Homo sapiens: one gene and its partner. The gene in region 1 interacts genetically with each later gene. Each region holds a gene or a part of one and is shown on either strand. Other genes may lie near its edges.

What was found.
Region 2: changes in TFRC (region 1) and FBXW7 together harm fitness more than expected from each alone (negative genetic interaction), as found in Homo sapiens cells (one large-scale study listed by BioGRID).

What each region holds. Positions count from the first base shown.
Region 1 is NC_000003.12:196,064,100-196,069,266, forward strand, and holds part of TFRC (transferrin receptor protein 1), read right to left. Parts: intron 4,032-5,167; coding exon 3,933-4,031; intron 3,559-3,932; coding exon 3,419-3,558; intron 1,502-3,418; coding exon 1,344-1,501; intron 330-1,343; coding exon 210-329; intron 1-209. UniProt on the Homo sapiens protein: Cellular uptake of iron occurs via receptor-mediated endocytosis of ligand-occupied transferrin receptor into specialized endosomes. Endosomal acidification leads to iron release.
Region 2 is NC_000004.12:152,320,044-152,323,092, reverse strand, and holds the end of FBXW7 (F-box/WD repeat-containing protein 7), read left to right. Parts: coding exon 1-212; 3' UTR 213-2,549; downstream 2,550-3,049. UniProt on the Homo sapiens protein: Substrate recognition component of a SCF (SKP1-CUL1-F-box protein) E3 ubiquitin-protein ligase complex which mediates the ubiquitination and subsequent proteasomal degradation of target proteins.

The DNA of each region.
Region 1 (5,167 bases):
TGGTGATTTCTAGCACAGTTAAGACACTTTATGGAAAGCTGTTTCAAAGGAAAAGGCAGCTACAACAAAAGACAATCTGCCTTGTATTTAAGAACTAGAGTCTAGCATGAGAACCACAGGAATGCAGGCAAAGTGAGCAAAGCACAGTATAACATCTAGAACTGTATGCAGTGCACCAATATTCAAAAGAATCAAAATTTGTACTCTACCTTTTAAGACCATATCTGAGAACATCTGGGCAAGTTTCAATAGGAGAGCTGTGCCTACACCGGATTTTGCAGCTCCAGGGCCCCATGCATCTCTCTGGGCCCCAACTACAACATAGTGATCTTTAAAAAAGAAAAAAGAGGAAGAAAGAACTTATATAATCAGCTTCTAAACTTTTCTAGAATTAGCACATCAGTAGAAAGGTAAAAGCACAGTATATGTATTAAGGATAAAAGAGCCTTACTTCAAATCTGACTAAAAACTCTGGGAATTAAAAATTCACATGAGAATATTAATTTTACCTTACTAGTAGAGCTACTTTTTTCCTACACTACTAATTAAATTTACTGACTACTTAAGTCCAAGGACTTATTTCTTAGTAAGTGTTGGCTGTTTGATTGCATTTAAAGTTAACTCCAGGGACTGGCAAACTACAGCCCGCATGCCCATTCACTACGCACAGTCTGTGCCTGTTTTCTTGCTCCCACAGAGTTGAACAGCTAAAAGAGAGACTGTATAGCCTGGCAAAAGGTTTATTATCTGCCCCCTTAAGAAATTTGCTTATCACTGGTCTAGTCAATAACTTAGAATAGATTTTCTAGTCATAATGGTCAATTTTTAACAAGAATTTCCTAGGGCCTTATTACCTCCCAATAAAACTGACACATAGGCTGGGCGCGGTGGCTCATGCCTGTAATCCCAGCACTTTGGGAGGCTGAGGGAGGCAGATCACCTGAGGTCAGGAGCTCTGACCTCATGGAGCCTGACCAACATGGAGAAACCCTGTCTCTACTAAAAATACAAAATTAGCCAGGCGTGGTGGCGCATGCCTGTAATCCCAGCTACTGGGGAGGCTGAGGCAGGAGAATGGCTTGAACCTGGGAGGCGGAAATTGCAGTGAGCCGAGATCACACCACTGCACTCCAGCCTGGGCAACAAGAGTGAAACTCTTTCTCAAAAAAAAAAAAAAGAAACTAACACATAAACAATTAACTTTAGGACAGACAAGATTGAGCACTTCATAAAACCAAGCCAAGCCAGCATTCCTACACTCGCTCCTTCTCTAGCCACATCCTTAGGAACAGAAAAGAAAACAAAAAAAAAGCGGGGCGGGGGGGGGGGGGGGCGGTCTTTACCTGGTTCTACAAAGCCTTTAATAACTCCAAAGATGTTAAGAATTTTTATCTCTTTCAGCACATTGCTCACAGTGAGCTTCACATTCTTGCTTTCTGAGGTTACCATCCTACATGTAGAGTCTGTTTTCCAGTCAGAGGGACAGTCTCCTTCCATATTCCTAGAATCAGAAAGCAGGCGTAAGTTCTGAGTTATTGTTCCTTGCCCAGGGTTTACTCCTGTCCAGTGAAGTTACAGATTAAGAGGACATATAAACAAAACTTACTCTCAGCCCGGCGAAGTGGCTCACCCCTGTAATCCCAGCACTTTGGGAGGCTGAGGCAGGTGGATCACAAGGTCAGGAGTTCAAGACCAGCCTGACCGACATGGTGAAACCCCGACTCTACTAAAAATACAAAAATTAACTGGGCATGGTGGCATGCGCCTGTAATCCCAGCTACTAAGGAGGATGAGGAGGAGAATCGCTTGAACCTGGGAGGCGGAGGCTGCAGTGAGCCGAGATCACGCCACTGCACTCCAGCCTGGGCAACAGAGCACAAGTCCTGTCTCAAAAAAAAACAAAACAAAACAAAACAAAATAAAAACAAAAAAAAACTTACTCTCTAGTGGTGAACCATTTGCGTCTTACTTTGATCTGCAGGCAGCCAATTGGAAACCATTAATTAAGCAATATTTTAAAACACTTCTCTAACTATGCGCCTTTCTGCCAGACATACTTACGTAGTTTATATTTGGAATACATACCAAGATGGACTCAAAATGAAGTTCTTCTAATATATAAAAGAATATTAATACACTTTTATGTTTCCCAACTGTCACCACTAACAAGGATAGTACACATTCTTAGCTCAGTTATAAAAAATATTCCTCAGCTGGGTGCGGTGGCTCACGCCTGTAATCCCAGCACTTTGGAAGGCCGAGGCAGAATTCCTTGAACCCAGGAGGTGGAGGTTGCAGTGAGCCAGGATCATGCCACTGCACTCCTGCCTGGGCAACAGAGTGAGACTGTCAAAATAAAAAAAAAATCTTGTGCTTCCCCTATCTAATTCCTCTGTGTTACCCAAATAATAGCTGCTCCTAAGGGGGCTTACTTACATAAATATAGGTTGAAACATTATTACTCCCCTACTACATAAGGATAAGATGGGACGCTGGCTTCACAGGTTGGTTACGATTTGTAGGTGGTAGGTAGAATGAGTCAAAAAAATCACCTATGCTAAATGCCTCTTAGCGTTATCAATAGTCATGGTATGTTACACACTCCCCTATGCTAAAGGCCTCTCAGCATGATCAACAGTCATGGTATTTCATATACTCCTTATATACAGATGTTCTTCATTTGAGACTATCAAGTAGAATATATTTTCACTATCCAATTATGTTAAAGAAACAGGATCAGAGAACCTATGTCATACAGGAGATAAATGCTTTCATAAAGGCCTGAAACTAGATCTCCATCCTGTAATAACAGGAAATGATAAATATGTCCACATCCAAATCAAAATTAATGCTACGTACTCTAATGGAACTGGGCTCTGTTTTTAAAGAGAGACACTAACGTTACAGGGAGGATATCCAGAGGAGCGAGCCACAACCATAAATGGTTTCTCTGGAAACCATCATAAGAAGCAAGGCTTCTCAATCTATAGACAAGGTAACTGGAATCATACCGTATTGCTTAGAAGAAAAATCCAGACAAATGGATGTTTCGGGGAATAGGATTTTATCCCAATATGAATTCTAACAGATTCTCTCTACTAACTGAATGGGCTGCTATAGGCATCGTGCTTCAGCACAGAAGTACTTGAGCAGAAGCTATGCCAGGAATCTTGCACAAGGAATTCACTGGGTTTATAAGTCTCCTTATTCTCCTGTGTTTATAAGTCCAAAGTCCATTATTAAGATCTCTTTATAGAGAAAAATTCATTTATATCTGTACCAAGGTAACAGCTAACCATCCTCCAAATTCCCAAATGTGGAAAATTATCATCATGTTTAACATTTTAATCAACATATTACCGTTCTTCCCTAATCATAAAACCTCACTATGCAAGACCGCTTTCAAATAAAAACTTACCCAAACAGCTTTTCTGCAGCAGCTCTGGAGATTGTCTGGACAGGTATATTAGGCAATCCTGATGACCGAGATGGTGGAAACTGAGTGTGATTGAAGGAAGGGAATCCAGGTGTGTAAGGGTCACCTGTCCCCAGATGAGCCTAGGAAAACAAAAGAGCAATTCACTCCATCACATACTTCCTCAAAACTTCTCTGTAAGATTCAGGTTTGGTATAAGGCTGCAGCCCAACCTTAGTTTACCAACTTGAAGCCTCAAAAATCTGAGTGGCTCTACAATGTGACTCCTGTTTTCATGGCATATGGAAATTCTCAAATTCAAGGCACTATTGACAAAGTACTTTTAGCAACAAATAATAAAGCCTCAAAGTCAATGTAATCTATCTTCTTGCTTACTGCTAACGCCCTCCCAGAAAAAAGAGCAGTTAAGGAAGACACAGTGCTATTTCTGCTAATACAGGAATCCAAGAACAACTCAAGGAACTCAAAACGGTGATTTACTCAAGAAATAACTCACATGTCCAAAGAATGAAAGTTCTGCGTTAACAATGGGAAATTTAGTCTGGTCCATGTATATCAACACACCAATTGCATTTAAGCTTTCAGCATTTGCAACCTAAAAGAAAACATATAAAGCTCAGAAAATGAAGATCTGATCATACGAAATGAGAATACATCCTGGACATTATGCTAAAGGCCAAATGGTTACAGAGGACTAAACTTATAATACTTCCAAATATTTCAAATTGTTTATCTGGTAATTTATTAATTGCTTCCTGAAAAATTAACTCACTTGTTTGCAAAATAAGAGTAACGGGCCAGGAGTGGTGGCTCACGCCTGTAATCCCAACACCTTGCAAGGCTGAGGCAGGGGGATCACAAGCTCAGGAGTTCGAGACCAGCCTGGCCAACATGGTGAAACCCTGTCTCTACTAAAAATACAAAAATTAACTGGGCGCAGTGGCTGGCGCCTGTATTCCCAGCTATTTGGGAAGCTGAGGCAGGAGAATCGCTTGAAACCATAAGGCAGAGGTTGCAGTGAGCCAAAATTGCGCCACTGCACTCCAGCCTGGACAAAAGAGCAAAACTCCCTCTCAAAAAAAAAAAAAAAAAAAAAAAAAGAATAACAAAGGCCAGGAGTGGTGGCTCACACCTGTAATCCCAGCAATCTGGGAGGCCAAGGCAGGTGGATCACCTGACGTCAGGAGTTCAAGACCAGCCAGGCCAACGTCGTGAAACCCTGTCTCTACTAAAAATGCAAAAATTAGCCAGGCATGGTGGTGGTGGGCACCTGTAATCCCAGCTACTCAGAAGGCTGAGGCAGGAGCATCACTTGAACCTGGGAGGCGGAGGTTGCAGTGAGCTGAGATCACGCCACTGCACTCCAGCCAGGGTGACAAGAGACTCCGTCTCAAAAAAAAAAAAAAAAAAGAAAAGAAAAATAACAAAAACCCATCTAAGACAACCACTTTTTTGAGTCTCACTGTCACTCAGGCTGGAGTGGCACGAGTCACATCTCACAACCTCCAGGGCTCAAGCAGTCCTCCCACCTCAGCCTCCTAAAGTGTTGGGATTACAGGTGTGAGCCCTGCCACTTTTTTTAAAAATGCAGAAATCACCACTGTCTTTTGATATGTTCCACTCTAGTTCCTTGTGTATGTTTGGCTATTAATTTTCCTTTTTATAAAACATGCTTTTAGCTGAATTCTGTATATGCGTAAAACTGAGTTATACAGAGAAATAGCTTTCACT
Region 2 (3,049 bases), on another chromosome or scaffold:
TTACCAGCTCAGATGATGGAACTGTAAAACTATGGGACTTGAAAACGGGTGAATTTATTCGAAACCTAGTCACATTGGAGAGTGGGGGGAGTGGGGGAGTTGTGTGGCGGATCAGAGCCTCAAACACAAAGCTGGTGTGTGCAGTTGGGAGTCGGAATGGGACTGAAGAAACCAAGCTGCTGGTGCTGGACTTTGATGTGGACATGAAGTGAAGAGCAGAAAAGATGAATTTGTCCAATTGTGTAGACGATATACTCCCTGCCCTTCCCCCTGCAAAAAGAAAAAAAGAAAAGAAAAAGAAAAAAATCCCTTGTTCTCAGTGGTGCAGGATGTTGGCTTGGGGCAACAGATTGAAAAGACCTACAGACTAAGAAGGAAAAGAAGAAGAGATGACAAACCATAACTGACAAGAGAGGCGTCTGCTGTCTCATCACATAAAAGGCTTCACTTTTGACTGAGGGCAGCTTTGCAAAATGAGACTTTCTAAATCAAACCAGGTGCAATTATTTCTTTATTTTCTTCTCCAGTGGTCATTGGGCAGTGTTAATGCTGAAACATCATTACAGATTCTGCTAGCCTGTTCTTTTACCACTGACAGCTAGACACCTAGAAAGGAACTGCAATAATATCAAAACAAGTACTGGTTGACTTTCTAATTAGAGAGCATCTGCAACAAAAAGTCATTTTTCTGGAGTGGAAAAGCTTAAAAAAATTACTGTGAATTGTTTTTGTACAGTTATCATGAAAAGCTTTTTTTTTTTTTTTTTTGCCAACCATTGCCAATGTCAATCAATCACAGTATTAGCCTCTGTTAATCTATTTACTGTTGCTTCCATATACATTCTTCAATGCATATGTTGCTCAAAGGTGGCAAGTTGTCCTGGGTTCTGTGAGTCCTGAGATGGATTTAATTCTTGATGCTGGTGCTAGAAGTAGGTCTTCAAATATGGGATTGTTGTCCCAACCCTGTACTGTACTCCCAGTGGCCAAACTTATTTATGCTGCTAAATGAAAGAAAGAAAAAAGCAAATTATTTTTTTTTATTTTTTTTCTGCTGTGACGTTTTAGTCCCAGACTGAATTCCAAATTTGCTCTAGTTTGGTTATGGAAAAAAGACTTTTTGCCACTGAAACTTGAGCCATCTGTGCCTCTAAGAGGCTGAGAATGGAAGAGTTTCAGATAATAAAGAGTGAAGTTTGCCTGCAAGTAAAGAATTGAGAGTGTGTGCAAAGCTTATTTTCTTTTATCTGGGCAAAAATTAAAACACATTCCTTGGAACAGAGCTATTACTTGCCTGTTCTGTGGAGAAACTTTTCTTTTTGAGGGCTGTGGTGAATGGATGAACGTACATCGTAAAACTGACAAAATATTTTAAAAATATATAAAACACAAAATTAAAATAAAGTTGCTGGTCAGTCTTAGTGTTTTACAGTATTTGGGAAAACAACTGTTACAGTTTTATTGCTCTGAGTAACTGACAAAGCAGAAACTATTCAGTTTTTGTAGTAAAGGCGTCACATGCAAACAAACAAAATGAATGAAACAGTCAAATGGTTTGCCTCATTCTCCAAGAGCCACAACTCAAGCTGAACTGTGAAAGTGGTTTAACACTGTATCCTAGGCGATCTTTTTTCCTCCTTCTGTTTATTTTTTTGTTTGTTTTATTTATAGTCTGATTTAAAACAATCAGATTCAAGTTGGTTAATTTTAGTTATGTAACAACCTGACATGATGGAGGAAAACAACCTTTAAAGGGATTGTGTCTATGGTTTGATTCACTTAGAAATTTTATTTTCTTATAACTTAAGTGCAATAAAATGTGTTTTTTCATGTTAGTATGCCTGTTTCTTCCACTGAAGTAATAATCCTTCATTATAAGTATTTAGGATTTGTCTATAATATTTAAATAAGCAAAATCTTGGTTTCTTTGCATCCTGCTGTGTGACATAGAAATCAATACTTCAAGCCTGTTTTATACCGCGAAAGTAAGGATAATGTGCTGCAACTGCAAATTTTATTTCTCTCCTAGACTATGAAGGAGGACACTCCACTGTGCTCATCTCTGTAGATTGCATTGGGGTGTATAAATATGAAATCTGGTTCCCTCAAAGAATCCACAAAACTTTTGTGATAATTACAACTAGAAGCCTTATAAATAACAAATTCATTTTGAAATTTTGACCACATATTAAGTGCTTACCCTCGATACTTTCTGTTCATTCTCTCTTAAGCTCCCACTATCCCTGAGAAGTAGGCACTATTATCTCCCATCTTAAAGACGAGCAAAAATCTGCAGCTGAGACTGGTTAGGCAATTTGTCAAATCATAGAACTAGCGGAATGCCAGAACTCAAACCCATATTTCCAAAGACTAAATACATGCTGCTCTTTAAGAAAGTTTGACAGACTAAAGCAAGGTTTGAGAGGGAAATAAGCCATTTTTCTGGTACTTTCTGACTGTTCTGTAGCCGTTTTGTTCAACAAATCTAAATTTTATAAAATCTAAATTTTATGATGTAAGGGGAAAAAATAAAGTTGTTTTTGAAACTAGTTCTAAATATATTTAGTATCTCAAATAGCAGGAGATATATATATATATATATATATATACACACACATATATATATACACACATCCAGTAATCTCAACTAACCAGGCCGTAGATGAAAATATAAAAGCTACTGAAAATGGACTCCCCTTTTTCTCATAGTCATAAAGTATGTGTTCTTTACTCATAGGGCAAATCCTGGGCCTCATTCTCCCAAAGCTACTAAATCAGAACACCTGGGAGTGTGACCCAAGAACCTGCATTTAAACTAGCTCACCAGGTGAGTTGTGGATACTAAAGTTTCAGAACCATTGCTTTAGATACCATTCCTGTACATTTGGTTATTTGGTTTATTAGTCCACAGCAAATTACAGACACAAAAATAGCAAGGAAAAGTGACAGGGTAAAGGAAAAAAACAAAAAACTACCTGGTTGAATGCAAGGCAAAAATCCTACTAGGCCGTGAAGTGCAGGGTCTTTAGAGTAAACCACGTTACTGCCC